7 linked regions of the Homo sapiens genome follow. The protein of the gene in region 5 interacts with the protein of the main gene of each other region in a pairwise test. Each region holds a gene or a part of one and is shown on either strand. Other genes may lie near its edges. The genes, in order: MISP, ATOSB, ATXN7L2, TRAPPC6A, HSPB8, SLC16A5 and RPIA.

Evidence for each region.
Region 1: the proteins of HSPB8 (region 5) and MISP interact in binary tests that used the Homo sapiens proteins (3 or more experiments, as listed by UniProt).
Region 2: the proteins of HSPB8 (region 5) and ATOSB interact in binary tests that used the Homo sapiens proteins (3 or more experiments, as listed by UniProt).
Region 3: the proteins of HSPB8 (region 5) and ATXN7L2 interact in a two-hybrid assay, tested with the Homo sapiens proteins (one large-scale study listed by BioGRID).
Region 4: the proteins of HSPB8 (region 5) and TRAPPC6A interact in binary tests that used the Homo sapiens proteins (3 or more experiments, as listed by UniProt).
Region 6: the proteins of HSPB8 (region 5) and SLC16A5 interact in binary tests that used the Homo sapiens proteins (3 or more experiments, as listed by UniProt).
Region 7: the proteins of HSPB8 (region 5) and RPIA interact in binary tests that used the Homo sapiens proteins (3 or more experiments, as listed by UniProt).

What each region holds. Positions count from the first base shown.
Region 1 is NC_000019.10:754,112-757,611, forward strand, and holds part of MISP (mitotic interactor and substrate of PLK1), read left to right. Parts: intron 1-335; exon of another isoform or gene 336-698; intron 699-2,778; 5' UTR 2,779-2,835; coding exon 2,836-3,500. UniProt on the Homo sapiens protein: Plays a role in mitotic spindle orientation and mitotic progression.
Region 2 is NC_000009.12:35,105,863-35,109,362, reverse strand, and holds part of ATOSB (atos homolog protein B), read left to right. Parts: exon of another isoform or gene 1-158; intron 159-625; 5' UTR 626-769; intron 770-1,013; 5' UTR 1,014-1,088; coding exon 1,089-1,982; intron 1,983-2,471; coding exon 2,472-2,530; intron 2,531-2,719; coding exon 2,720-2,825; intron 2,826-2,952; coding exon 2,953-3,111; intron 3,112-3,353; coding exon 3,354-3,422; intron 3,423-3,500. UniProt on the Homo sapiens protein: Transcription regulator that may syncronize transcriptional and translational programs.
Region 3 is NC_000001.11:109,482,519-109,486,704, forward strand, and holds the start of ATXN7L2 (ataxin-7-like protein 2), read left to right. Parts: upstream 1-1,386; 5' UTR 1,387-1,435; coding exon 1,436-1,562; intron 1,563-1,612; exon of another isoform or gene 1,613-2,313; intron 2,314-2,813; exon of another isoform or gene 2,814-3,538; coding exon 3,539-3,604; intron 3,605-3,987; coding exon 3,988-4,092; intron 4,093-4,186.
Region 4 is NC_000019.10:45,168,238-45,171,737, reverse strand, and holds part of TRAPPC6A (trafficking protein particle complex subunit 6A), read left to right. Parts: intron 1-3,500. UniProt on the Homo sapiens protein: May play a role in vesicular transport during the biogenesis of melanosomes.
Region 5 is NC_000012.12:119,188,931-119,192,088, forward strand, and holds part of HSPB8 (heat shock protein beta-8), read left to right. Parts: intron 1-3,158. UniProt on the Homo sapiens protein: Involved in the chaperone-assisted selective autophagy (CASA), a crucial process for protein quality control, particularly in mechanical strained cells and tissues such as muscle. Displays temperature-dependent chaperone activity.
Region 6 is NC_000017.11:75,097,954-75,101,453, forward strand, and holds part of SLC16A5 (monocarboxylate transporter 6), read left to right. Parts: intron 1-84; coding exon 85-228; intron 229-2,003; coding exon of another isoform or gene 2,004-2,053; coding exon 2,054-2,863; intron 2,864-3,500. UniProt on the Homo sapiens protein: Proton-linked monocarboxylate transporter.
Region 7 is NC_000002.12:88,694,673-88,698,172, forward strand, and holds part of RPIA (ribose-5-phosphate isomerase), read left to right. Parts: intron 1-3,500. UniProt on the Homo sapiens protein: Catalyzes the reversible conversion of ribose-5-phosphate to ribulose 5-phosphate and participates in the first step of the non-oxidative branch of the pentose phosphate pathway.

The sequences.
Region 1 (3,500 bases), on a different chromosome or scaffold from region 5:
GTTCAAGACCAGCCTGGCCAACATGGTGAAACCCGTCTCTACTAACAATACAAAAATTAGCCGGGTGTCCTGGCTGGGCGCGGTGGCTCACGCCTGTAATCCCAACACTTTGGGAGGCCGAGGCGGGAGGATCACGAGGTCAGGAGATCAAGACCATCCTGGCTAATATGGTGAAACCCCGTCTCTACTAAAAATACAAAAAATTAGCCAGGCGTGGTGGCGGGCGCCCGTAGTCCCAGCTCTAGGGAGGCTGAGGCAGGAGAATGGCGTGAACCTGGGAGGCAGAGCTTGCAGGGAGCCGAGATCGCGCCACTGCACTCCAGCCTGGGCGACAGAGTGAGACTCCGCCTCAAAAAAAAGAAAAAATTAGCCGGGTGTGGGGGCGGGTGCCCGTAGTCCCAGCTACTCAGGAGGCTGAGGCAGGAGAATTGCTTGAACCCGGGAGGTGGAGATTGCAGTGAGCTGAGATCACGCTACCGCAGTCCAGCCTGTGCATCGCAGCGAGACTCTGTCTCAAAACAAAAGACAATACCTAAGACGGGTGCTGGGTACAAGGCCTGACATGAAGGAGGTGTTCAGATGATGGCTCTGGGGGAGGGGCAATCTGGGTTACTTCCTGGAGGAGGTGTCCATGGGCTTCAGCAGAGGAAGCCGTGGAGAAGCAGAAACAGGCAGCCTCGAGACAGAGAGAGCTGCAGGTAGAGGAGGAGGGCGAGGTTTGGGGTGGAGGAAGAGGGCCTGGTTTGGGGTGGAAGAGGAGGGTCTGGTTTGGGTTGGAGGAAGAGGGCCTGGTTTGGGTGGAAGAGGAGGGTCTGGTTTGGGTGGAAGAGGAGGGTCTGGTTTGGGGTGGAAGAGGAGGGCCTGGCTTGGGGTGGAGGAAGAGGGCCTGGTTTGGGGTGGAAGAGGAGGGCCTGGTTTGGGGTGGAAGAGGAGGGTCTGGTTTGGGGTAGAAGAGGAGGGCCTGGCTTGGGGTGGAGGTGCCCACAGAAATTGGGGTTTCGTGCTAAGGCCAGGAGCAGGGTGTGAGAACTGTGCCCTGCAGATGCCAGGAGCCACAGAAGCGATGCGAGCAGGTGTGTGACCTCCGGGAAGGCTCCTGGAACTGAGCCCAGCAGCAACCTGGACCCTTGGGAGAGGGCGAGAGCCGGAAGGCACTGGGTCAGGGTGTCACCCGCTCGCTCCACGGCCCCACCTGGGCCCAGCGGGACAAGGTCCACGGTGTTCCTTTGCCCATCCTGGCTTTATGGCGACAAGGCCCAGGCGGGGATGTTGTCTCAGATGGGACGAGGTGTCCAGCTGGGCAGGGCAGGGTGGAGAACCAGGATGTGGGAGCCGGGAAACTGGAGTTGCTGTCAGTCCTTCTCTCTGGGCCTCAGTTTCTCCATTTGACATCCCTTAGCAAGGGGCCATCTGTAATTGTCAGATGGAAAAATCCCACACCAGGAGTCTCAGAGTGAGCTCAGGGTGGAAAGGCTCAGTGCACAGGAGACACAGATAAATATGGTGCGGCCAAGGAAGGCTTCAGAGATCAAGGCTGAGGCCAGGCGCGGTGGCTCACGCCTGTAATTCCAGCACTTTGGGAGGCCGAGGCGGGCAGATCACCTGAGCTCAGGAGTTCGAGACCAACCTGGCCAACATGGTGAGACCTCGTCTCTACTAAAAATACAAAAAATTAGCCGGACTTGGGAGGTTAGCGCCTGTAATCCCAGCTACTCAGGAGGCTGAGGCACGAGAATTGCTTGAACCTGGAAGCAGAGGTTGCAGTGAGCTGACATTGTGCCACTGCACTCCAGGCTGGGCAACAGAGCGAGACTCCATCTCAAAAAAAAAAAAATCAAGGCTGAGCTGGACTCCACAGGGCAGGTGTGTGTGTCTGGGAGATAAGGTGGGCAGGGCACCCTGATTTTATTGGGCTGCAAATGTTAGAAACATATAATGCGAGTTGTTGGGGTAGTAACCGGGACATTCAGAGATTCAGGTATGGTTGGAATCAGGGAGCTTAAAAGTTTTCAGGATGCTTTGCTGGTGTTGGGGTTGCTGTCAAGCAAGCTGTACCCACTGGGGGCATTTACGTCCCCAGCAATTCACTATCTCATTCCATCAGCCTAACAAGACCAGCGGGAAGAGGGTCCCATCTTCTGCATTAATTGTAAAGTCCCAGGGTCTCATGTCATTGGCTAGACTGGGTCACATGCTCATCTCTGAACCAATTACAGAGGCCAGAGGGTGAAATGCTCTCACTGGCTGGACTAGGTCACTTACCCATCTTTGAACCAATCACAGAGGCCAGTGGGTGGGATGCTCTGATTGATCAGGATGAGTCACTTACCCATCCCTGAACCAATCACAGAGGCCAGAGAATGGGCTACTCTGACTGGCCAGGCTGGGCCATTTACTCATCCTTGAACCAATCACAGAGGCCAGAAGGTGGGATGCTCTGATTGGCCAGGCTGAGTTACTTACCTATCCCTTAGCCAATCACAGAGATTAGACAATGGGCTGCTCTGAGTGGCTGTACTGTGTCACGCACCCCTAAACCAATCACAGAGGTTAGAGAATGGGATGCACTGATTGGCTGGACTGTCACTTACGCACCCCTAAACCAATCACAGAGGTTAGAGAATGGGCTGCTCTGAGTGGCTGGACTGTGTCACTTACCCATCCCTAAACCAATCACAAAGGCCATTTGATGGACCCTTTGCCCTTTGGGGGACTGGAGGCTGTTCCTCTCCCTAGGTGCTCTGACTTGATGGCCCTCATTTCCTTCTCCTCCCTCAGTAAGCCCAGAGGTCTCCACCCCACGGGAGGAAGGCTGAGGCCAAGACCCCGGAAGAGATGGACCGCGTGACCAGATACCCCATCCTGGGCATCCCTCAGGCACACCGTGGCACCGGCCTGGTGCTGGATGGAGACACCAGCTACACATACCATCTGGTGTGCATGGGCCCCGAGGCCAGCGGCTGGGGCCAGGATGAGCCGCAGACATGGCCCACTGACCACAGGGCCCAGCAGGGCGTGCAGAGGCAGGGGGTGTCCTACAGCGTGCATGCCTACACTGGCCAGCCGTCCCCACGGGGGCTCCACTCGGAGAACAGGGAGGATGAGGGTTGGCAGGTTTACCGCCTGGGCGCCAGGGATGCCCACCAGGGACGTCCAACATGGGCACTCCGCCCAGAGGACGGGGAGGACAAGGAGATGAAGACCTACCGCCTGGATGCTGGGGACGCTGACCCCAGGAGGCTGTGTGACCTGGAGCGGGAGCGCTGGGCCGTCATCCAGGGCCAGGCAGTCAGGAAGAGCAGCACCGTGGCCACGCTCCAGGGCACTCCTGACCACGGAGACCCCAGGACCCCCGGCCCACCTCGGTCCACGCCCCTGGAGGAGAACGTGGTTGACAGGGAGCAGATTGACTTCCTGGCAGCGAGACAGCAGTTCCTGAGTCTGGAGCAGGCGAACAAGGGGGCCCCTCATAGCTCCCCGGCCAGGGGGACCCCTGCAGG
Region 2 (3,500 bases), on a different chromosome or scaffold from region 5:
CTTCTGGCAGTGACCCCTTCCCCTTCCCCTTCTTGTTTTTGGTCGGATTTGTTGCCTCTTGTTAAAGAGACAGGCTGCTGGAGGCAATTTGGAGTTCAGGGCTGAAAGGCCAGCTCTGAGCTGACTTGAAATTTGTACCTCTGAGGACCGCTGATGGGGTATAACTGTGTGGGAGACCTCTGCCCTTAGTGCCCTAGGATGGCACTTGTCCCTTTGGAGATAGACATATAAGAAGGAGTTGTGCAATTTGGTGGCTTTGAGTAAGAAAGCTGAATTCTTCCCCTGGCCGCCTCTCAGCTGACACGGTCTCTTGGATCTTGGGGGTCTCTCATCCCTTCCTCCATGTAGGGCAGGAGTCCTCAAATGGTGGCCCTGACAAGTAGTTATTCTACCTCAACTCACTTGTCACATCCTTATTATACTGAGCCAAGACCTGCCTCTTTGACTCCTTAGGTAGCCCAACTCTGCCATCTGTGCCCTGGACCCCAAGCCTACCCTTTCTGTTCCTGAAGAGCCTCTCACATGGGAGAAGGATGTCCTGGAGTGTACTATTAGCCTATAATTGGTGACAGGCCTTACCGCTGGCTCCAGTGATCCTGGCTTACGTCTGTTCTTCTCTCCTCAGGGTCCTGCTGAGCTCAGGAGCTGCACGGAATGGTGGCAGTCACCTTGCCAGTGCAGCAGGCATGGATCAGACTGCAAGCTAGGGGCACGAGGCATCAGTTGGGAAGAGGGGACGCACAGCTAGGCTTGAGGCCTCTTCATCGGGGTAAGTACCAGGGAGAAGAGGGGGAAGTGTGTCCAGTAAGAAGCCTGAGCTAAACCTGTCACCCTCTCAGGAGTTCTGAGAGTGGTCTCTATATTCCATTAGTCCATCCAGGGATTTGTACACATTCATCCTTGGGAACCCATCAAAGTCACCCCTTTAGGCAAGGAGAGGGTCTGAAACTCAGCTGGAAGGAAGAAGACTCATTGATTCCCCTGACCACCTTTTCTTCTCTTCTCTTACACAGATGTCCCCAGGCCCCCCAGCCCAGGCCCAGCATAAAGGCCGTGTTGGGGGGCCCCCCTGACCCAAGGGGGGCTTCATGCGCCACGTGCAGGCGGAGCCGTCTCCATCCTCAGAGCCGGAGGCTGGCCCTTCACAGCCTCCAGTCAGGCAGGGGGCCCTCCAGGGTGGCCTGCTCATGGGCTACAGCCCAGCAGGGGGGGCGACATCCCCCGGGGTCTACCAGGTATCCATCTTTTCCCCTCCGGCTGGTACCTCTGAGCCTCATAGGGCCCTGAAACGACAAGCCCCATCCACTGAGGGTCCCCGGGAGCTGAAGAGAGGCCCTGGGCTGGGGGCCAGAGAGGGACTACCCCCTGAAGAACCATCTACTGTGGGGCTCTTAGGCCCAGAGGGACCGGGGCTGGGACTAGGTGTGGCCAGCCAGCATTTCTCCCACCGTGGCCTCTGTGTTGTGGAACAGAGAAGTAGTGTCACCTCATCTTGGACTTCGGGGGCCTGGAGTCCCCCCTGCCCCCCATCAAATGCTTCCTGCAATACTTTGCACACCAGAGACTGGGCCTCCCCAGATCCAGGGGGACAGGGGTCCCTGGGGGAGTCCCCAGGGCCAGCCCCTCCAGGCCAGCTGCACACACTTGACACTGATTTGCACAGTCTTGCACAAATAGGGGGTAAGAGCCCAGTGGCTGGGGTGGGCAATGGGGGTAGCCTCTGGCCTAGGGAGTCCCCTGGCACTGCCAATGGGCACAGTCCCGAGCACACACCCCCTGGCCCTGGACCCCCAGGCCCCTGCCCCACCAAGCGAAGGCTGCTTCCTGCTGGAGAAGCCCCAGATGTCAGCTCTGAGGAAGAGGGGCCAGCCCCTCGGAGGCGCCGGGGATCCCTGGGCCACCCTACTGCTGCCAACAGTTCTGATGCCAAAGCCACACCCTTCTGGAGCCACCTGCTGCCTGGGCCCAAAGAGCCTGTTTTGGTAAGCCAATAAAGGACCTCATTTACTCTTTTTTTACTTTTTTTTTTTTTTTTTTTTTTTTGAGATGGGATCTCACTCCATCACTGCTGGAGTGCAGTGGCACAATCTCAGCTGACTGCAACCTCCTCCTCCCAGGCTCAAGGGATCCTCCAACCTCAGCCTCCCAAGTATCTGGGACCACAGGCACATGACATTGCACCCAGCTAATTTTTGGTATTTTTGGTAGAAATGGGGTTTCGCCATGTTGCCCAAGCTGGTCTCGAACTCCTGAGCTCAAATCATCGACCCACCTTGGCCTTCTAAAGTGTTGTGATTACAGGCGCTCAAGCCACTGCGCCTGTCCTTCATGTACTCTTAAGTGGATATTTGTGTGGGTAAAGGTGGAGGCCTGGGGGGCAGGGTGTTCCTTTGAGAGTTTGTGATGAGCTTCTGCCCCAAAACATACATGGCCTTCACCCTGTGTCTTTTCCCAATCATTTCTCTCCGTAGGACCCAACAGACTGCGGTCCCATGGGGCGGAGGCTGAAAGGAGCCCGTCGCCTGAAGCTGTAAGTGACCAGCTTTTTCCTCTACCCTGTCCCTGAGAATGGGGGCAGAAGTCTGTACTCTTTCCAGCATCCGAGTAGGGGACCCCAGGGCAGAAGCCCTACATAGTGGCAGAGGGTGGAGTCCAAGGGCATAAGCAGGAATCCCAGAATACCTCAAGCCAACCCCCTGTGTTTCCCTTCCTCTACCAGGAGCCCCCTTCGAAGCCTCCGGAAGGGGCCAGGCCTGCTGAGCCCCCCCAGTGCCTCCCCTGTTCCTACCCCTGCTGTCAGCCGTACCCTGCTGGGCAACTTTGAGGTAGCTCCCGTTGGGGTTTGTGATTGCCGGGGTCCTGGGAGAGGTGGGATGGTGGAATGTGGCTTGGATGGATAAGGAAAAGAATTGGCATCTCTCTCTTCATGTGTTTTCCCTACCCTAATCCCAGGAATCATTGCTGCGAGGACGTTTTGCACCATCTGGCCACATTGAGGGCTTCACAGCAGAAATTGGAGCTAGTGGGTCATACTGCCCCCAGCACGTCACGCTGCCTGTCACTGTCACATTCTTTGATGTTTCTGAGCAAAATGCCCCGGCTCCCTTCCTGGTATGCCTTGACTCCAACCCCAAAGTCAGCTCATCAAGAGGATGAGGATTTGGGGGCGGGGCCAGGGGGCAAGAGGTATTTCTTACTTATTCCTCACCTAGAAGTGAGTCAGGGCCAGGTGAGGAGAACTCTACTGTAGGGCAGGGGCAGGTTCAGGGTGAGAGCTTGTGGAGAGGGACATGTGTTTAGGGCCCAGGGTTTTCCTAGTCCCCACCTTGACTGATGGCTCCCTGGCCTTCCAGGGCATCGTGGATCTGAACCCCTTGGGGAGGAAGGGTTACAGCGTGCCCAAGGTGGGCACCGTCCAAGTGGTGAGTTTGCCCTGAGGGAGTGGGAGTGGGGAGAGAGGAAAGCAGCCCTCAGGCCCTACCAACCTTGACTGTCCTGTC
Region 3 (4,186 bases), on a different chromosome or scaffold from region 5:
ATCAGCTTCTTGTTGAACAAACTTGCACCTCTATCCCTCTTCAGAGAGTCACACACTACATTTACATCCCCTAGAAAAATACCTTGGGTACAATTGAACATTTAATTTTTACCTGATTCCTGGATGCCCTAGGGATCATCTGTGGGTCTCAGGTTGAGATTCCCTGCCCTCAGAGATTATTCTTGAAGTACTTACACCTTCCCTGGATGAAAAGGAGAAGAAAATCTGAGGTCTTGCTCCCCAACTTGTTTTCCCCTTAGCTAAAGGGTCAAGCGTCGGGGGTGAGGTGTGAGAGGTTGAGGAGGAAAAAGGATTAGTATTACTTTTTTAATGCGATGGCGGCGGGGGGGGGGCGGGAAATGGAGTAGGCAGACTTTTGTCTGATTGTGTGAGGGTGGGAAGAAATGTTATCAGCTGAGAAGATGAAAGAAATGGATGATTAAGGTACTTTCCAGACCTTAGCAAGGAAGATGACAGCTCTGATGAGAAATCTCCCTATGCCGAGGCTTCAGAAGCAGCCCTTCCAGCAGAGAAAGTATTCATTAGAAAAAGAAGGCAAAGTGATGGATGGAGTCAGGGTCCAGCCAGGGTTTGGGAAGAGGCTGTACAGGGTATCGATCGCAGTTCTCAAGAGAAGAGAGACAGATCAGCAGAGATGCTGCAAACACCAGCTGCCTCGGGGCCACCCCAGTTCTGGGGCTGGCTCTGGCTCGGAGACAGCCTTCTGTCATCCTGTCATCATGACAGGTGATCTTGGTCAGCTTGGCCAGGTCCTCTCAAATCCAGACAACGCCACGCCAACCCTCTGCTCTGCATCAGGGCAGCGTGGGTTTCCCACAGAGGAGGCACGACACGGGAGCCGAGGCCCTCCCCCACACCACCCCTGTGTCCTTCAGCACCTCCTACAGACTCCCTCCCCTTGCCCTTCTGATTCACAGCGCCCACCTCCCTGCACCTACCCTATTCGATCTACAGGGGAGCGGAGTCGCTTCGTGGCCGCCAGCCCGGGAAGGGGCGCCAGCCAGCTGGCGGACGCACGGCTTAGAGGGGCGTCTGGGCAGAGAGGTTTGGGGCTGGGGAGAGATGCAGTGAGCTTGGGAGAGTGGACTGGTAGCACAAATAATGTGTGCATAAGGGTTAGAAGAGGAGGTCCTGGAGCTTTGGTCTTCTCTTTTCCCCCTGCAATTGTGCATTTCGGAGGGACTCTTGCTGCAAGCTCGGTAGGCAATAGCATCCGCTCCAAGACTACACTTCCCAGAAGGCTGTGAGTGGGTGGGGGGGGGGGGGGCGCGGGGAACAGGCAACCTGTGTTGCGCTTGCGCAAAGACTGCGCTGGAAAGGCAGGTGGGGAGGAGGGGAGGCGTGCCCGCGACGGGGCGAGGGGGAGGGGGCCGCGCGGCGGCGGCGCCAGGGCGGGCGCGCGTCCGCGGCGGTGATGGCGGTGCGTGAACGCGCGGCGGCAGCAATGGCCGCTCTGGAGCGGCGGGTGCCGAGTCTCGATGACTTCGCGGGACAGAGCTGGAGCTCGTGGGTGGAGCGGGCCGACCTGCCCGCGGCTGACGGTGAGTAAAGCCACCCTAAAGTCCGGGGACCCCATCACTATCTCCCCTCCCCCCTTCCGGGCCCCCGCCAGCTGAGGGGAGCCGCCGACTGGAGCCGCCGTCCGGCTCCCCGGCCCCCCAAACAAAGGACCCGCCGGGTCCTAGTGCCCGCCCGCTCCGTCACCTTCGCGCCTCCGGGTCCTAGCGCCTGCTCACCGCTCGCAGCCCACCCTGCCAACCTCTGCCTCTGCCAGTCGCTAATACCTGCCCCCATATAGGCTTGCCTTTATCTTTCTCCTTGCCTGCTGCCCCTCAGCTCGCGACCCTCCTGCACCTGCCTCCAGCTTTCCCTGTCCGCAACAGTCCTCCACGTGTTTCCCACGCACCCCACTTCTGTGCCCCCTTCCTCACCCCCCTTGTTCCTTCGCCTTTTGCCCCACACCTCCTGCTCCTTTTCGGCATTTGCCTGCAGCTGCAGTGCTTTTAGACCCCCGCCCTCTCCGCGTTAGTTCGTCCGTCCATCCATCTATCCTCCCTCCCTCCATCCTTCGGTCCATCCATCCATGCCTCCAACCCACTGTCCTTTCCCAGGCCTCTTGCCCTGCCTCTTGGCTCTCTGCTCTTACTCTCACCTTCTCTAGGCCCCTGAGTGCCTTAGTGAGCGGGCCTACAGCCCCTTCTTCTGATCTTTGTCTTCTGGGCCCCAGGGAGCACCTGGCCTCGTGGCCTTTCGGGGTGACAGCAGGCATCACGCCCCTGAAGAAGTTTGCAAGTGAGAAGAGGTGGAGGAGGAGACTGCACGGAGGGGTCTCTAATGACACTTGTTCTCCTCTGAGACATCCGACTCCCAGTTTCGTTCTATCCATCATTCCCCGCACTTGCATTTAACGGACTTAGAGTGGGAGCTGCCCCTTGTCTCTTGCGTGCCTAACCCACGACCCCTCATAATCTGGATATTATATAAGATTGTCAACAATCTTCTCATCCTAGAAAGGAGCATATCTGTTAATGGGCATCAGAGAGCAGACCTAAGTGGGAGCCCAGGCCACCCTGGGGCTGCCCCATGCTGGGTGGGCAAAGATGGGGCCATTGTCAGGGTCTGGGTGCATTGAGAACCGGAAATGGAGTCAGACGGGTTTGGTGACTCAGAATTGATTTTTTTTTTCCCAAGGGACAGGGAGGGGGCGTAGAGGAGGGAGGGGGGAGGAGAGAGGTAGGGGGATGGGGAAAAAGCTGCTTTGCACAGCTAAGATGTTTTTGTCATTAACCCAGAAACTGAGGTACAAGGGCAACCCCTGCCCAAAGGCCCTCTAAGAAGGGGAGGGACTTGCATAGCTGACCAAGGAGACTTTGAAGATGCTCAAGGACCAAAGACAGCAGTTTCTCTGCTCTGTGACCATCCTATCAGTGCAGGACCTGAGAAGCTGGGTGTAACTTTGACAATGCTATGGTAACCCAGGTGGAGCAAAATTGAGTTCATGGGGGTGGGGACCTGGGAGAGTATCTATTTGGGATGCCACATAGTAGCAGAAAGGACCCATCGAGAAATCTCAAGAAGAGACTCAGGGACTTATAGAAACATTGGTTAAGGACGGTTTCCCCTTTAAATGGGGAAGCAGGCCCAGAAAAGAGATGATACTTACCCACAATCACCCAACTAGTTAGCAGTGGAACCCTAAACTGCACCTTGAAGTGAAGGGTCCCATAAGAAAGGTGGATGGATTCTTCTTAGTGGGGCCATCTTAGTCCAGATGCAGCAGGTGAAGGAAGATGGGCATTTGAGAATGGACCCACTGAAAGGTTCCCCAAGTGGTCCTAGCACCAGGAGCTTGTCACGGAGTGTGGGCTTCATACTGTTGAGCTGCAGGCCCTGCTTGGGGCTTCTGGAAAGGGGACAACCTCTGGGTTGTCTTCTGGGAAGAACAGTCTCTGGTAAGGAGAGGCTGGAGACTCTCTAAAACTGGCCCTGACCCTTCTGAGCTGTGTTTCTCCTCTAGGGGCTGAGCTGGAGGAGAGTAGCAAAAACACGAAGAAGTTGGATGCCATGACCCTCATTAAAGAAGGTGGGAGTCGACACACATTAGGGCTGGGACCCAGGGCAGACAGGACCACGCTCCACTTTTCCACCACACTACAGAAGGAGGTGGCTGCTTGAAGCAGCTGTCTGGGGACCCTCATTTTGATAGGTCCGAGTCGGCCGGTTGTTCTGGCTCCTGTGACCTGTCGTTGGAGATCATAATCATAGGTGATTGCCCACTCACCTGAAAGCGTATACCCTTTGGGACTGCTTAGATCGAACTCTGGAAGCTGGAAGCATTCAGCATGGAGCTTGTTATATCAGCGGGGAGGTGAAGTGCCTTCTGAGTGTGGGGTGGGAGTGCTCTCCGATCTTCCAGAGAAACCCTGGGATCTTCAGCCCCAGTGACATGGGCTTCTGTCATTGCAGACATGTCCATCTTCGGGCACTGCCCTGCCCATGATGACTTCTACTTGGTTGTGTGTAACCACTGCAGCCAAGTGGTGAAGCCTCAAGCTTTCCAGAAGCACTGCGGTGAGGGGAGCCCTAGGGAGGAGATAAAGGGACAGGGGAAGGTGGAGCATGGAACTCTGAGGACAGGGTCAGTTGGGAGGTCTCGTAGGGTAAT
Region 4 (3,500 bases), on a different chromosome or scaffold from region 5:
ATGTCCTGTAGGCACCACAGGGAATATTAGACTTCCTGCATCTCTTCCAAGCATCCTGTAGCTTTTCTCTCATTTTTTCCTCCCTCCTGTTTTTCTTCTGGGAGGTGTTATCTGTCTTACAGGTTTCTCTGTTATTCAGTTCCCTTGTTAAAAAGTGTTGATTTTGGCCACCATATTTGTTCATTTCCAGGAACTCTGCTTTGTGTCTGATTGATCCTTCCTGTGTGGTGGATGTCATTAGCACCGACACTGATAAGACTTCCCTTCCACCTTTCCTTTCATCCGGTCTGTGTGTAAACTCAGCAGAGGCAGGCGTGGGGAGCCCCAGAAATGCACCGGCTCTGGGCTGGGCTCTGGCAGATTCATATGAATGGGAGAGTCTCTGTCTGGCCAGCCCTTCTGTTTTGTTTTGTTTTGTTTTGTTTTGTTTTGTTTTGTGACTGAGTCTCGCTCTGTCACCCAGGCTGGAATGTGTTGGTGTGATCTCAGCTCACTGAAACCTCTGCCTCCCGGGTTCAAGCGATCCTGGTGGCTCAGCCTCCTGAATAGCTGGGATTATAGGCGTGCGCCACCACGCCCGGCTAATTTTTGTATTTTCAGTAGAGACAGGGTTTTGCCATGTTGGCCAGGCTGGTCTCAAACTCCTAACCTCAAGTGATCCTCCCGCCTTGGCTTCCCAAAGTGCTGGGATTACAGGCAAGAGCCCCCGCGCCCAGCCCCTTCTGTTTTTAAGAAAGATAAACCCCTAACCTCTGAAGAGCTTTTGCAGTGACATGGGCATGGACACCACCAGGTCTCGCTGTGATGAGGTGGGTGGAGGCTTCTCCCTTCCTCCTCCGCCCTTTCTTCCCTGCCTCCTGCTCCTCCTCGGCCCCTCCCTTTTGCTGTGATTCCCCACAGCCCTTTTCAGTTCAGCCAGGATCTGAATGGCCCCTGTCCAGGGCTGGGTACAGTGGGGCCAGCAGTCACACAGCCGTGTATCCAGCTGTTGCCACCTGCCAGTCACACCACCACTGTGAGCAGGTACTGCCATTAGCCCCATGGCACATGTGGGGAAACTGAGGCACGGGATGGTTGGCTAATCTGCCCAAGGTCACAGAGCCAGTGAGTGGCGGGGCCGAGATTCAAACCCAGGCAGTGTGAAGTTCATGAAGGGAAAAGCTGAACTTGCTGGAACCCCTTCAGACTCCACGCTCCTGGCCTGGCTGAAGGACCCTGCTGACTCTCTCCCCCAGCTCACCCCTCCGGGGGCTGCCGTCCTGGCTGTGACCTGGGCCTGGTGTGCCTTCACAGCCCACTCCTGCTGTTGAACTCCCCCTCTTCCCTCAGGCTCAGCACAGTCGGGGTGCTTCCTAGGGGTGGGAGTGCACCCTCGCAGCACACCTGCCTCCCTCTTGGCAGTCGCTGTGAGCATAGTGAAGCCGGCCATTGCACCTTTGCCCATTCCCCGGGTGAAACGCCAGCTCCAGCAGGGCAGGGACTGAGTCTGTGGCCCACTGTGGCTGGCATTCAGGCAACGTGGCCTGCGTTGACCCTCAGGTTGGCTGCACTTGCCTGCAGGGGAAAATGCCCCCTCTGCAGCCCACTCTGAGGGCCCCTTCCCTTCCCCGCCTCTCACCCCTGCCTTGGCACATGCCCTTTGCTTGGAATACCTGCCACCTCCGGCCCCCTCCTGGAGGGCAGGCTCTGCACTGCACTGCCCGGGCCCCTTGCACTCAGTCTCCCAGCCCTTCCCAGATTGTCAGTTGGCATCATTTGGGCACCTGTCAACCCTGCCAGGCAAGGTAGGTGAGCTCCTGGAGGACACTAGGAAATGTCTGTGGCATGAATGAGGGAGGGACATAAAGGAGCCCTTAGCGAGTGGGGACACAGACGTGTTCCACCAGAGTGCAGCCTGGCCCTGCCTCTGGGAGCTTTGCTGTGGACACAGACGTGTTCCCTCAGAGTGCAGCCTGGGCCCTGCCTCCAGGAGCTTCGCTGTGGGAGGAGGTGACACGGGAGCCGCAGCTACCAGGCAGCGAGCTCTCGCCCGGGCTGTTCTAGGTGCTGGCTACAGGAGCCCACAGAACAGACCCCCTTCCTTCCTGGGGTTCTCCTCCAGCCAAGGGCTTCATCCCTCATTGGCTGGGGCCGTCTCCTTGTTTGACAGATGTGGAGGCTGTGAATGCAATAAGTAAGGCTCCCGGAACTGCCTTGAAGTACTCAGGTTGCCTTTACCAACCCTTACTCCTTGTGAGGATCCTGGAGGTAGCTGCCATTAATATTCCCCTCCTTTGGGCTGGACGCAGTGGCTCACACCTGTAGTCCCAGCTACTTGGGAGGCAGAGGTAGGAGGATCACCTGAACCCAGGAGGTAGAGGCTGCAGTGAGCCAAGATCGTGCCATTGCACTCCAGCCTGGGTGACAGAATGAGACCCTATCTCAAAAACAAACAAAATGACCCTCTTTTTTACATGAGGAAACTGAGGCACAGGTATTCAGCCATTGGCCCAGGTCCCACACTGGTAAGTGCTGGGGCGGATCTGGACCCAGGCGGTGGCTCTGCACCTGCGCCGCTGGTAGTGCTGCCATGAAGGACCCACGGGCAGGGGTCTCTTCCCACTCTGTCTCTCACACACACCTGCCCGTCTCCTGCAGTCATCGGCCCCTTCCATGAGCCTCTGCTGTGTGGCCGGCCCTGCTGTGCCTGAGGACACTGGAGGAAAGCAGATGGTGACACCAGAGGGAGACAGTGCAACAGGAAGCCGTGTCGTTGTCACCCATGAGGGCGAGGCCTGGCAAGGGGCCAGGCAGAGGAAGGGCCACCTTGGCTTCAGATATGGGCGACCTCAGCTCAGGCCCCCCCGCCATTCCCAGCGCTCCTCACCTCCGTGAGGCCCTCAACAGCCATGGCTGTCACCCCACCCACCCTCCTATCTGGACCTGCTGGGGTGTGAAAGACAGTCCCGTGCTGAGGGTGCCTTGGATGGGTTCTTCTTAACCTCAGAGCCCCTGTTTCCACCTGGAATTACAGCCTTCTGTGAGGCTGGAAAGGTAAAACAAGAAGGCTGTAGAAAACGCCTGCCACACAGTATGCCGGTCCTGGAATAACATTTTGTTGTGACATTGATGAGGAAAAAATAATGATTCCCGGGACCATTGTCTGGGTGGTGGTTGTGGGTTCTCCCTGTGCTGGTGCAAGTTCCTCTGGGCTCTCCTTTCCTTGTGCATCCTTGGGATGTGTCCGCTGGGTGAGCTCCCGGGTCTCCGTGGGCCCAGTGTGAGTGAGTGTGGGCCCGTGTGCGCCCTGTGATGGGATGGCGTTCTGTCCAGGGTCCATTCCTGCTTTTGGCCCTGCCAGGACGGGCTCTGGCCACCCAGGACCCTGAGCTGGAGGAAGCGAGTAAATGTCTTACTGGTTTTTTGTTTTTTATTTATTTTTTAAGACAGGGTCAGGGCCGGGCGCGGTGGCTCACGCCTATAATCCCAGCACTTTGGGAGGCCGAGGTGGGTGAATCACG
Region 5 (3,158 bases):
AGAGATCACACTAGCTGAATTCTGAGGCTTCTTCCAGCTTGGGATTCTACATTCCTGTCTCTTCCCCCACATGTCCGTCCCTGGCCCTCCCACAGCCTCTGCAGTTCTTGGAAGCCTGTGGACACTTCCTGATAAGGCAAACGCCAAACCATTTGTTCTTCGTGTTTGCTGGCTTGCCTGGCATCTCCGTGCCCCACACCTCTCCCTGGTTTAGCAAGCAGATTAAACATTGCTGAGGGAGAGGAAGGAAGGCAGGGGGTGGGGGGAAGCTGATGTCAAGGCTCAAATGAGGTCTCAGGGTGGAGTCACAAGCAGGGCATAGCTGTAAAAGGGACTGTGTAAGAAAGAAGTGAATTAATCATCTTAAAAGGGGTGTGTGTGTGTGTGTGTGTGTGTGTGTGTGTGTGTGTGTATTTCACATGCTCCAAGGCCTTAGGGGAGATAGCTTGCTGGAAGTAACCTGATGAGAAATGCCTGAAATTGCTCCAGGCTGGTGCTCAGCTGCTGAGCTGGGCTAGTTGTTAAAATATTCAGTGGTCCCCAACCTTTTTGGCACCAGGGACCAGTTTCGTAGAAGGCAATTTTTCCATGGACTGGGGAATGAAACTGTTCCACCTCAGATCATCGGGCATTAGATTCTCATAAGAAGCATGCAACCTAGATCCCTCGCATGCACAGTTCACAACAGGGTTCAAGCTCCTATGAGAATCTAATGCCACTGCTGATCTGACAGGAGGCGGAGCTCAGGCAGTAATGCTGGCTGAACTGCTGCTCACCTCCTGATGTGAAGCCTGGTTCCTAACAGGCCACAGATGGGTGCCGGTCCATGATCCGGGGGATGGGGACCCCTGAATATTGGCTAGCTATTGCCCTGAGCCCTCCCTAGCCAACCCCAGTCACTCTGATCTTGTCCCCAGGACCCTCTAAACCTCTCCACCTTCCAACAACTAAAGGGTCCCAGGACCCTCCTCCATCACTATGACATGCACCCATCCCTTCTGAATGGTCAGTGCCCAGCTGCACTAGTTGTTAAATATTTTGAATCTCAGCTCCGGGTGCAGGGAGTCCTGGCTCCATGAGAAAGTGAGTGGGTAACTTGGGGCAACTTGCTTAACTGCTCTGACCTTCCATTCCCACATCCCTGCATGGAGGGGTTGTGATGGGAGTGAGAGGATGTGTATAACGCATTAAGCATGGAATACAGACTCAGGGCTTGGTCCATGGGAATTAATATTATGAAAAGGCTTCACAAGGCTGGACTCACACTCCAGCAGCTGGGACTCCTGGGAGCTCCTGGCTCTGCCCAGACTCTAGACACCTAGGAGTCGAACTGGGGTCTGGGACACCTCTGGACCAATCTCAGGAGTCCTCGTTGCCTCCTCTCCCAGGGAAAACTCCAGTCATTAGAGGACAGGGAGATTCCTTCAGCCAGGCTGAGATCCTTGGAGATTTCCACCCAGGCAGGATGCTGCAGCTGTTTGCCTTAACCATGGCAAGGAAATTCATCTCAACACATCCATCTCTGTGTGAAAAGCCCCATTTGGACTGAATAAGGAGGAGAGGGAGAGGTCTTGGGTCTCAGCTTTCAAAGTCCATGATCTTCCTATTTGGTTAGGGGAAACCAAATTACAGTCATTTGCAATACCGTCATTCACATCCCATCTTCACTATTTTTTGCCTTATATGCTTACATTGCTGTACCATGATTTACTAAAGGTTTTTTTTTCTTTTAGATCATCTCATTTTTGATAAAGTTAAATTCTTATCACTGAAATGTTCACTGAGGAAAGCGATCATGAAATAAATCCAATGAAAGCAAACTGTGGTTAAATTCTAACTAGATAATATTGCCTGCCTAAGGGCCTCAGCTCTCTCATTGTTAAAAAGGGAAGGTAGCAAGTGATAGAGGCTAAAGGCGTTAAAGGCATGTTAGTACTTAGCAGAGACATTCCTTCAGATGTAAGTAGAAGCACTGAAAGAGAACTGAAGAGGAATTACTTTCCCACCAAATGGGTTTAAATACAAGTCACTTGGTTAGAGACCTTGGACTTGTCTATCTCTCTGAGTTTCAGTTTCCCCATAAGTAATATAAGAGCATTGTCATGGACAATCAGGAAGATCCTTTGGGGCCCTGATACTCTGTGGTTCAATGATCCTGCAATTTGTATGATACTCCATCTTGCTGTCAAGATGCCAACATGTAAGGTCAAAGACTGCAACGTAATTCTCACTCCACCCTAAGAGGTGGGTACTATTATTGCCCCCTTTTTTTCTGCAAAGAAACAGGTTCAAAGAGTCAAGATCACCAGCCCCATGTTGTGTGGTCAGGAAGAGTCAGAATTTGAATGCACGTCAGCCTGCCTGCAAAACCCATGCTCTAGGCCATAGCCACCCTGTCACACTGTACCTGGTGTGCACTGGGTTGGTGTGCACATGGTTAAACAGTCAGCCCATCCCCAGCATTGGGAGGGAGGTCTAAACTTTTGACTTTGTCTCCGCTTCAAAAGCTTGACTTGGCAGCTTTCTAGTTCCCTCTTTTTCTTCCAAATGGGCTTCCCAGAAGCAGCCTTGTTCATCTCCATGGTTCCAATCTGGCAAGGAATCTCCTGGGTAGATACGGCTCATGTGGCTACAGGTTGTTGTACCCACAAAAAAAGAAAGAAAGAAAGAAAAAAAAAAAACTCCCCAGCCCCTCCAGAAGGAGTCCTGCCTATGATCAGGAATGGGCTTACCTCATGCCTTGGTTCTTTCATCAAGACCCTCGTATTTACAATAGGCAGAGCCAGCAGGGATCAGTGGAAAGATTTTGATTGAACTGCCGGTCCTTCCTGCCATAGTCCTTCTTTCAAATGTCTGGTGCTGGGGGAGGCAGGAGAGCATCATGGTCAGATACTCTGAGTTTGGAGACCAGGATTCCAATTCCATTTCCTATCTGCCATTTGCCAGCTGAGCAACCTTGGGCAAAGCAGTTCACTTCTCTGAGTCTCAATTTCCTCATCTGTAAGATGGGGATAGCAATGGAATCTGCCTGGTGGGATTATTGTTAACACCAAAATGATATGATTCAGCTAAAGTACCTGGCACATAGAAAGTACTCAGAAGGTCATGGATTTCATGGTTAAAAAAAATAATGGCACCCCAATGAGATCACTAATATG
Region 6 (3,500 bases), on a different chromosome or scaffold from region 5:
CTGGAACTGCCCTCTCCAGCCACTCTCCTCCTCTCCCGCCACCTCCTCATTCAGCTGCTACCTGCTGGCTGTCTTCTCCCACAGGGCCCCTGTGCAGCATCCTGGTGGGACGCTTCGGCTGCCGAGTGACCGTGATGCTGGGGGGCGTGCTGGCCAGCCTGGGCATGGTGGCCAGCTCCTTCTCTCACAACCTCAGCCAGCTCTACTTCACAGCAGGATTCATCACAGGTGACTATCACTTCATCTCCAGAATTTATAGGCACCTGCTAGAAAGTGCCAGGCACAAGTGGACAGGGCAGGCAGGCCTCTTAATCTTCTGGAACTGCTGGCTGGGTGCGGTGGCTCACACCTGTTATCCCAGCACTTTGGGAGGCTGAGGCGGGCAGATCACCTGAGGTCAGGGGTTCGAGACTAGCCCGGCCAACATGGTGAAACCCTGTCTATACTAAAAAAAATACAAAAATTAGCCAGGCTTGGTGGCGGGCCCCTGTAGTCCCAGCTACTCGAGGCTGAGGCAGGAGAATCGCCCGGGAAGTGGAGGTTGCAGTGAGCCAAGATCGCACCACTGTACTCCAGCCTGGGCAACAGAGCAAGACCCCATCTCAAAAACACAAAAAACAAAGTGCTGGGATTACAGGTGTGAGCCCATCATGCCCAGCCCTTTCACGGCATTTTGTTTTAAGGGGACTGGAGGAACAGACTATACCCAGAAGTGGTTATGAGGTCAAGACAGGCTTTTTTTGTTTGTTTGTTTGTTTGTTTTTAATGGGAGAAATAACGAAGGAGAAGGATCTAGGAAAGAAGAGAAAAAGGATGATGCAGGAGAGAGGGGACTTGCTAGAGGGGTGCCTCTGAGTGGAGAGGATGCAGGGCAGAAGGGAGGGACAGCCACTGGGGGAATGGGCAAGCCATTGTCACTGGCTAGCAGGCATGTGGGCAGCTGAGCATAAGGATAGGGAGGAGGTGTTGGGGGGCACAGAGGAAGACACCGGTAGTCACCTAGCAGGGCAGGCAAGGCATGATTGAGGGAGCTGTAGTGGCGTCACAGGCAGCCTGAGGGCCCGCCTGAGGCCACGGTCACACATGATTGAGAACTTTTTCTCCAGCATGCTCAGGTGTGCAGGTGCAGACACTGAGTGGGTGGGGAGCGGGGAAGGCCCCTCTGGAGAGGTGGCGTCTGAACTGAGAGGAGAGTGGAAAGTCTGGAGGAAGCAGATTCCAAGAAGGAACAGCAGCTACAAATAACCCGAGGTAGGGGCAGCTTCATGTCCAGAGGCAGAGAAAGAAGTTCCTGTGTCTTGATCCTAATGAGTGACAGGGAGCAGCCTGAGATGGCATCTGAGAGGCGGGCTGGAGCCGGACCACAGAGAGCCTTCCAGGGCATTGTGGAGACTGTGGATTTTTTGTCAAGTGTGATGGGAAGTCTTTGGAAGGTGTTAAGCCAAGAGAGACTTAATCCAATTTGGGGTTTGTTTGTTTTTGAGACAGAGTCTCACTCTGTTGCCCAGGCTGGAGTGCAGTGGCACAATCTCAGCTCACTGCAACCTCCACAACCTCAGCTCACTGCAACCTCCACTTCCCGGGTTCAAGTGATTCTCCTGACTCAGCCTCCTAGGTAGCTATTACAGACTACAGGCGCCTGCCACTAAGCCTGGCTAATTTTTTTGTATTTTTAGTAGAGATGGGGTTTCACCATGTTGGTCTCGAACTCCTGACCTCAAGTGATCCGCCAACCTTGGCCTCCCAAAGTGCTGGGATTACAGGCGTGAGCCACCGCGCTCGGCCCAATTTGGGTTTTTAAAAGATAACTCTCGTGCTACACCTAGGGGAACAGGGATGCCCTGGCAGCCTTGGGAGGGCAGATCTGGGGTGGGGTGCCTACAGGGAGGTGGCGAGGCCAGCTGATTCCATGGTCAGTCCCCAGGGACTTGGAGCTGGGTATGGACTAGAACCAGAGGAGGGCAGGTGTGTGAAATGACCACTGACCCCACCCCTGGGTGCAGGTGGAAGGCCCCAGTGCGCCTCCAGGCTGGTTTCCCCTCTTGCCCCGCAGGCCTGGGCATGTGCTTCAGCTTCCAGTCAAGCATCACGGTGCTGGGCTTCTACTTTGTCCGCCGGCGGGTGCTGGCCAACGCGCTGGCCTCGATGGGCGTCTCCCTGGGCATCACCCTCTGGCCGCTGCTCTCCCGCTACCTTCTGGAGAACCTGGGCTGGAGGGGTACCTTCCTTGTCTTCGGCGGGATCTTTCTCCACTGCTGCATCTGCGGGGCCATCATAAGGCCTGTGGCCACCAGTGTGGCCCCTGAGACCAAAGAATGTCCCCCGCCACCTCCCGAGACACCTGCACTTGGCTGCCTGGCTGCATGCGGCCGGACCATCCAGCGCCACCTGGCCTTCGACATCCTGCGGCACAACACAGGCTACTGCGTGTACATACTGGGTGTGATGTGGTCCGTCCTGGGCTTCCCACTGCCACAAGTCTTCCTGGTGCCATATGCCATGTGGCACAGCGTGGACGAGCAGCAGGCAGCCCTCCTCATCTCCATCATCGGCTTCAGCAACATCTTCCTGAGGCCCCTAGCCGGGCTGATGGCAGGACGGCCGGCCTTTGCTAGCCACCGCAAGTACCTGTTCAGCCTGGCACTCCTGCTCAATGGGCTCACTAACCTGGTGTGTGCGGCATCAGGTGACTTCTGGGTGCTCGTGGGCTACTGCCTGGCGTACAGCGTGTCCATGAGTGGCATCGGCGCCCTCATCTTCCAGGTTCTCATGGACATCGTCCCCATGGATCAGTTCCCCAGAGCCCTGGGACTCTTCACTGTCCTGGACGGCCTTGCTTTCCTCATCTCCCCACCACTGGCCGGTGAGGAGCTGGGAGGGAGGGCAGCCAGATAGTGTGGTAAAAGGGGAACAGTTTAGACAGATCTGGGCCCAGTCCAGCATCTCCAGAGGTTGTGCTACAGCTGGTTTCCAACCTGGCACTCAGAGTATGAACAGTTAAAAACATGGGTTTGGCCCGGCGCGGTGGCTCATGCCTGTAATCCCAGCACTTTGGGAGGCCGGGGCGGGCAGATCATGAGGTCAGGAGATCGAGACCATCCTGGCCAACATGGTGAAACCCCGTCTCTACTAAAAATACAAAAAAATTAGTTGGGCGTTGTGATGGGCGCCTGTAGTCCCAGCTACTCGGGAGGCTGAGGCAGGAGAATGGCATGAACACAGGAGGCAGAGCTTGCAGTGAGCTGAGATTGCGCCACTGCACTCCAGGCTGGGCAACAAAGCGAGACTCCGCCTCAAAAAGAAAAAAAAAAAAGCATGGGTTTGTGACCAGGTGCGGTGGCTCACGCCTGTAATCCCAGCACTTTGGGAGGCTGAGGCGGGTGGATCACGAGGTCAGGAGATCGAGACCAACATGGCTAACGTGGTGAAACCCCATCTCTACTAAAAATACAAAAAAATTAGCTGGGTGTGGTGGCGGGCACCTGTAAATCCCAGCTACT
Region 7 (3,500 bases), on a different chromosome or scaffold from region 5:
TCCCTCCTTCCACTTGCTCCTTTCTCTCCCCAATGCTTTTCTGTCTTGGAGCTGGCTGTAAAGAAATTCTGTGACCTATGTTGTCTGTTTGTACGTCATAAGATCCCCATTTCAGAAGGGTTCCTGTTCCATACCCTGGAGGAAGGAATGCTGCAGGTGAAGAAGAATCTGAACAGACAGCCGTTGCAGGGTTTCCCCAGTCAGTCTGCTAGTATTGGATCATGCCCTTTTTGTTCAGTCACATTTCTAGGCCCTTGCAATTCCTGGTCTTTTCCAAGAGCCAATCATACCTATTCAATAAAGTCTCAAAAAAAAAAAAAAAAGAAAAAGAAAAAGAAAAGCTCGAGAGGACAGGGTTTGGAAGCTTCTGGAGAGCAGAACATGTGAAGGTCCCTGGAGGATGGTGTGCCTAGAGAGAGCATGGAAGCTCTGTGCTCCTTCTTACATGCCTTTACCTATGCATCTCTTCATCCATATCCTTCATCATAGCCTTTATAAGCTGGTAAACATGTTTTCCCTGAGTTCTGTGAGCCACTCTAGCAAGTTAATCAAACCCAAAGAGAGTGTTGTGGAAACTCCAACTTGAAGCTGTCAAGTCAGAAGTTCTGGAGGCCTGGACTTGCATTTGGTAGGAAGGAGGAGGCAATCTTGGGAGCTGAGCCCTCAACCAGTGGAACCTTATGGTATCTCCAGGTAGAGAGTGTTGAAATTGAATTGGAGGATACCCAGCTGGTGTCTGCTGCAGAGTAGATTGCTTGCTTGGGATACGGGGAGAAATCCCCATACATTTGATCACAGAAGTCTTCTGTGTTGATGATTGTTGTGGTGTGAGAGCAGAGGAAAAAGTTTGAGTTTTTCCACACTCAGACATAGGCCTTGATAAGACATTTTCTCATTCCTTGAAGATTTTTATATGTGAGATATTTAGCCATTTTGAATGTTTCTGTACTGTGATGTATCATTTACTTGTCTTGAAGTCCTTGCCTTTGGGGATTGTCCAGGTAGCTAAACAACTTTACTACACACATTGCCTTCTTGAGAGCATTGGTATAGGTGGAATCCTGACCTAGTGCGAGCCCTGTTCTGACAGCCCAAGCCCCTGATGTATTCAGTGCCTTTGGAACTGTGAGCTAGTAAAAGCAGTTTCCACCAGGTCAATAACACAAAAGTTGTTGGATAAAGTCTTCTGTAGGTAGGAGAGGCTATAGTAGCATTTTTAGTATATATGTATATGGTTGTGGGGACATTAGTATTTGATTTTTTTTTTTTTGGTAACTCTACTTGTTGGTCATTCTTTCTAATCTTTTCTAGTTATAGATGTAGTCAGGCTTTGAGAAGGACCATATCTAATGTGAGGCCTAGGGGCTGACTTTAAGTATTCCTATGGCCTTTGTCCTGTGGGGAATGAAGGATTTTAGTTGTGGCCCTGCTTGTCCTGAGGGCCCTTCAGGACTTGTCTTCTTCCTAAAAAGAAGGTTTTACTATGGGCTTTCCTTTGTCAAATAAATTAATTGTTAATCAGTTGTTGGAAATCTTAAGAAATTTGAAATAGATTGATGTTTCAGCGAATTGAACTTCCTGAAGTTGCTTATTCGATTGAAATGGCTCATCCTGTAATCCCAGCACTTTGGGAGGCAGAGGTGAGATGATCACTTGAGGCCAGGAGTTCGAGACTAGCCTGGTTGGCAGAGTGAGACTGTGTCTTTTAAAAGAATTAAAAAAATTAGCTGGGCATGGTGGCATGTTCCCATAGTACTAGCTATGTGGGAAGCTGAGGCAGTAGGATTGTATGAGCCCAGGAGTTTGAAGATGAGTTTGTGTGTGTGTGGGGGGGCATTGATAGTTTATATATATTATAAACATATATACAAGATATATTGTATATCTTGTATATATATTTAAAACAGGTAAAATCACACATATATAAAACAAATATATGTCAAAGATTTTATTTAACTCACTAAATTAATGAGGGAACTGGAAAGGTTATTAGAACCTGTTCATAGGTGTCTTAGTCCATTTTGTGCTGCTATAATAGAATACCTGAGAATGAGTAATTTATAATGAACAGAAATGTTTTGGCTTATACTTCTGGAGGCTACGAAGTCCAATATCAAGGCGTTGGCATCTGGTGAGAGAGACAGATGTTGAAGTGCTATGGGTGGGCACCAATCCTACCCATGAGGGTGGAGCCCTCTGACCTAATCACCTCTTAAAGGTCCCACTTCTTAATATTGTTATAATGGCAATTAAATTTCAACGTGAGTTTTGGTGGAGATGTTCAAAGCATAACAGGAGAAGTCAACTGTAAGCTCATATGTAGTAAAAAAATCTTAAAATGAATTTAGAAGATCTGTTAATAATTGTGTCTCACAGAACACTATTAATTTGCATTTCAATGAACAAAACTTACTTGCTTTGTTAACAGTTTTCTGCAAGTTAAAGTGTATCTCTATACAGTCGTCATATATCTTAAAGACAAAGGCACATACCTTCTTAGAGTCAGACAATACAAGCAGGTTCCAGCATCCCATTGGAAGGATATCCAGTAGTCTCTTTTGCTCATTTCAAAGTCTTAAGTTTTTCCTTACAATATTGAACTCATCTATAAAGTGGAAATAGTGGCTCTGTAGGTCATAAGTGATTGTTGTGAGATTTGGCTTTATATTAACATTTATAAGTCTTCTTGGTAGGTGCTTAATAAATGGTAGCTGCCGCTTTGGTGTTCACTTGGCTTTGCCTTGCAAAGGCAGGAGATAGATGTCAGGAAGTTGCTTAGGCACTGAGCTGCATATTAGTTCCTGACTGTTAGTACCCTGGCCTCGTTTTGCTCTTTGTGGTCTAGTAGACTCAGCTGAGCTTTTACTCTTTGGTCTGCTTGCAGGTACCTTCTTTGTTTCTTCTTGTTTGGTCTGCTTGTAGGTACCTTCTTTGTTTCTTCTTGTTTGGTCTGCTTGTAGGTAGGCTCCGTATTGTGATGTCTGCCTGTACTTTGTACTCAGGAAGTGCTCTGCATTTATTATGATCCTTTCTATTGCAGATGAAGACTATTTTTCATGTTCTTAACTAAGCCTTTGCCCTCTTTCCATTTTCTCTGAGGCAGGCTCATGCAAAATGAGCACCCCTTGGTGTCACCTAGGCAGATGCTGACATACTTTATTATTTTGAGGTTACTTCAGGCCCTCCCTTTATCTGCTGACTTTGGGAGAGCTCTAGATGGTGGGCCTGATGTGTCTTGTGGTGCTACCAACTTGAAGGTGCCTATGGAAGACACTGAAGCCAGAAGCCTTAGCTTTCCTCCCTTACCCAGGCTCCAGGCTCTATTGTTTTTTCTTAGGTGTTTTTCTAATTGCCTCCCTGGGATTGGCCAGGAATCTTTTTCTTTTCTTTCTTCTTCTTCTTTCTTTCTTTCTTTTTTTTTTTTTTTTAAACACACTGTTGCTGGCTTGAAATGTCAGGAATCTTTAAGTGTTTATATGCAGGCCATTTCTGTGAGGGTG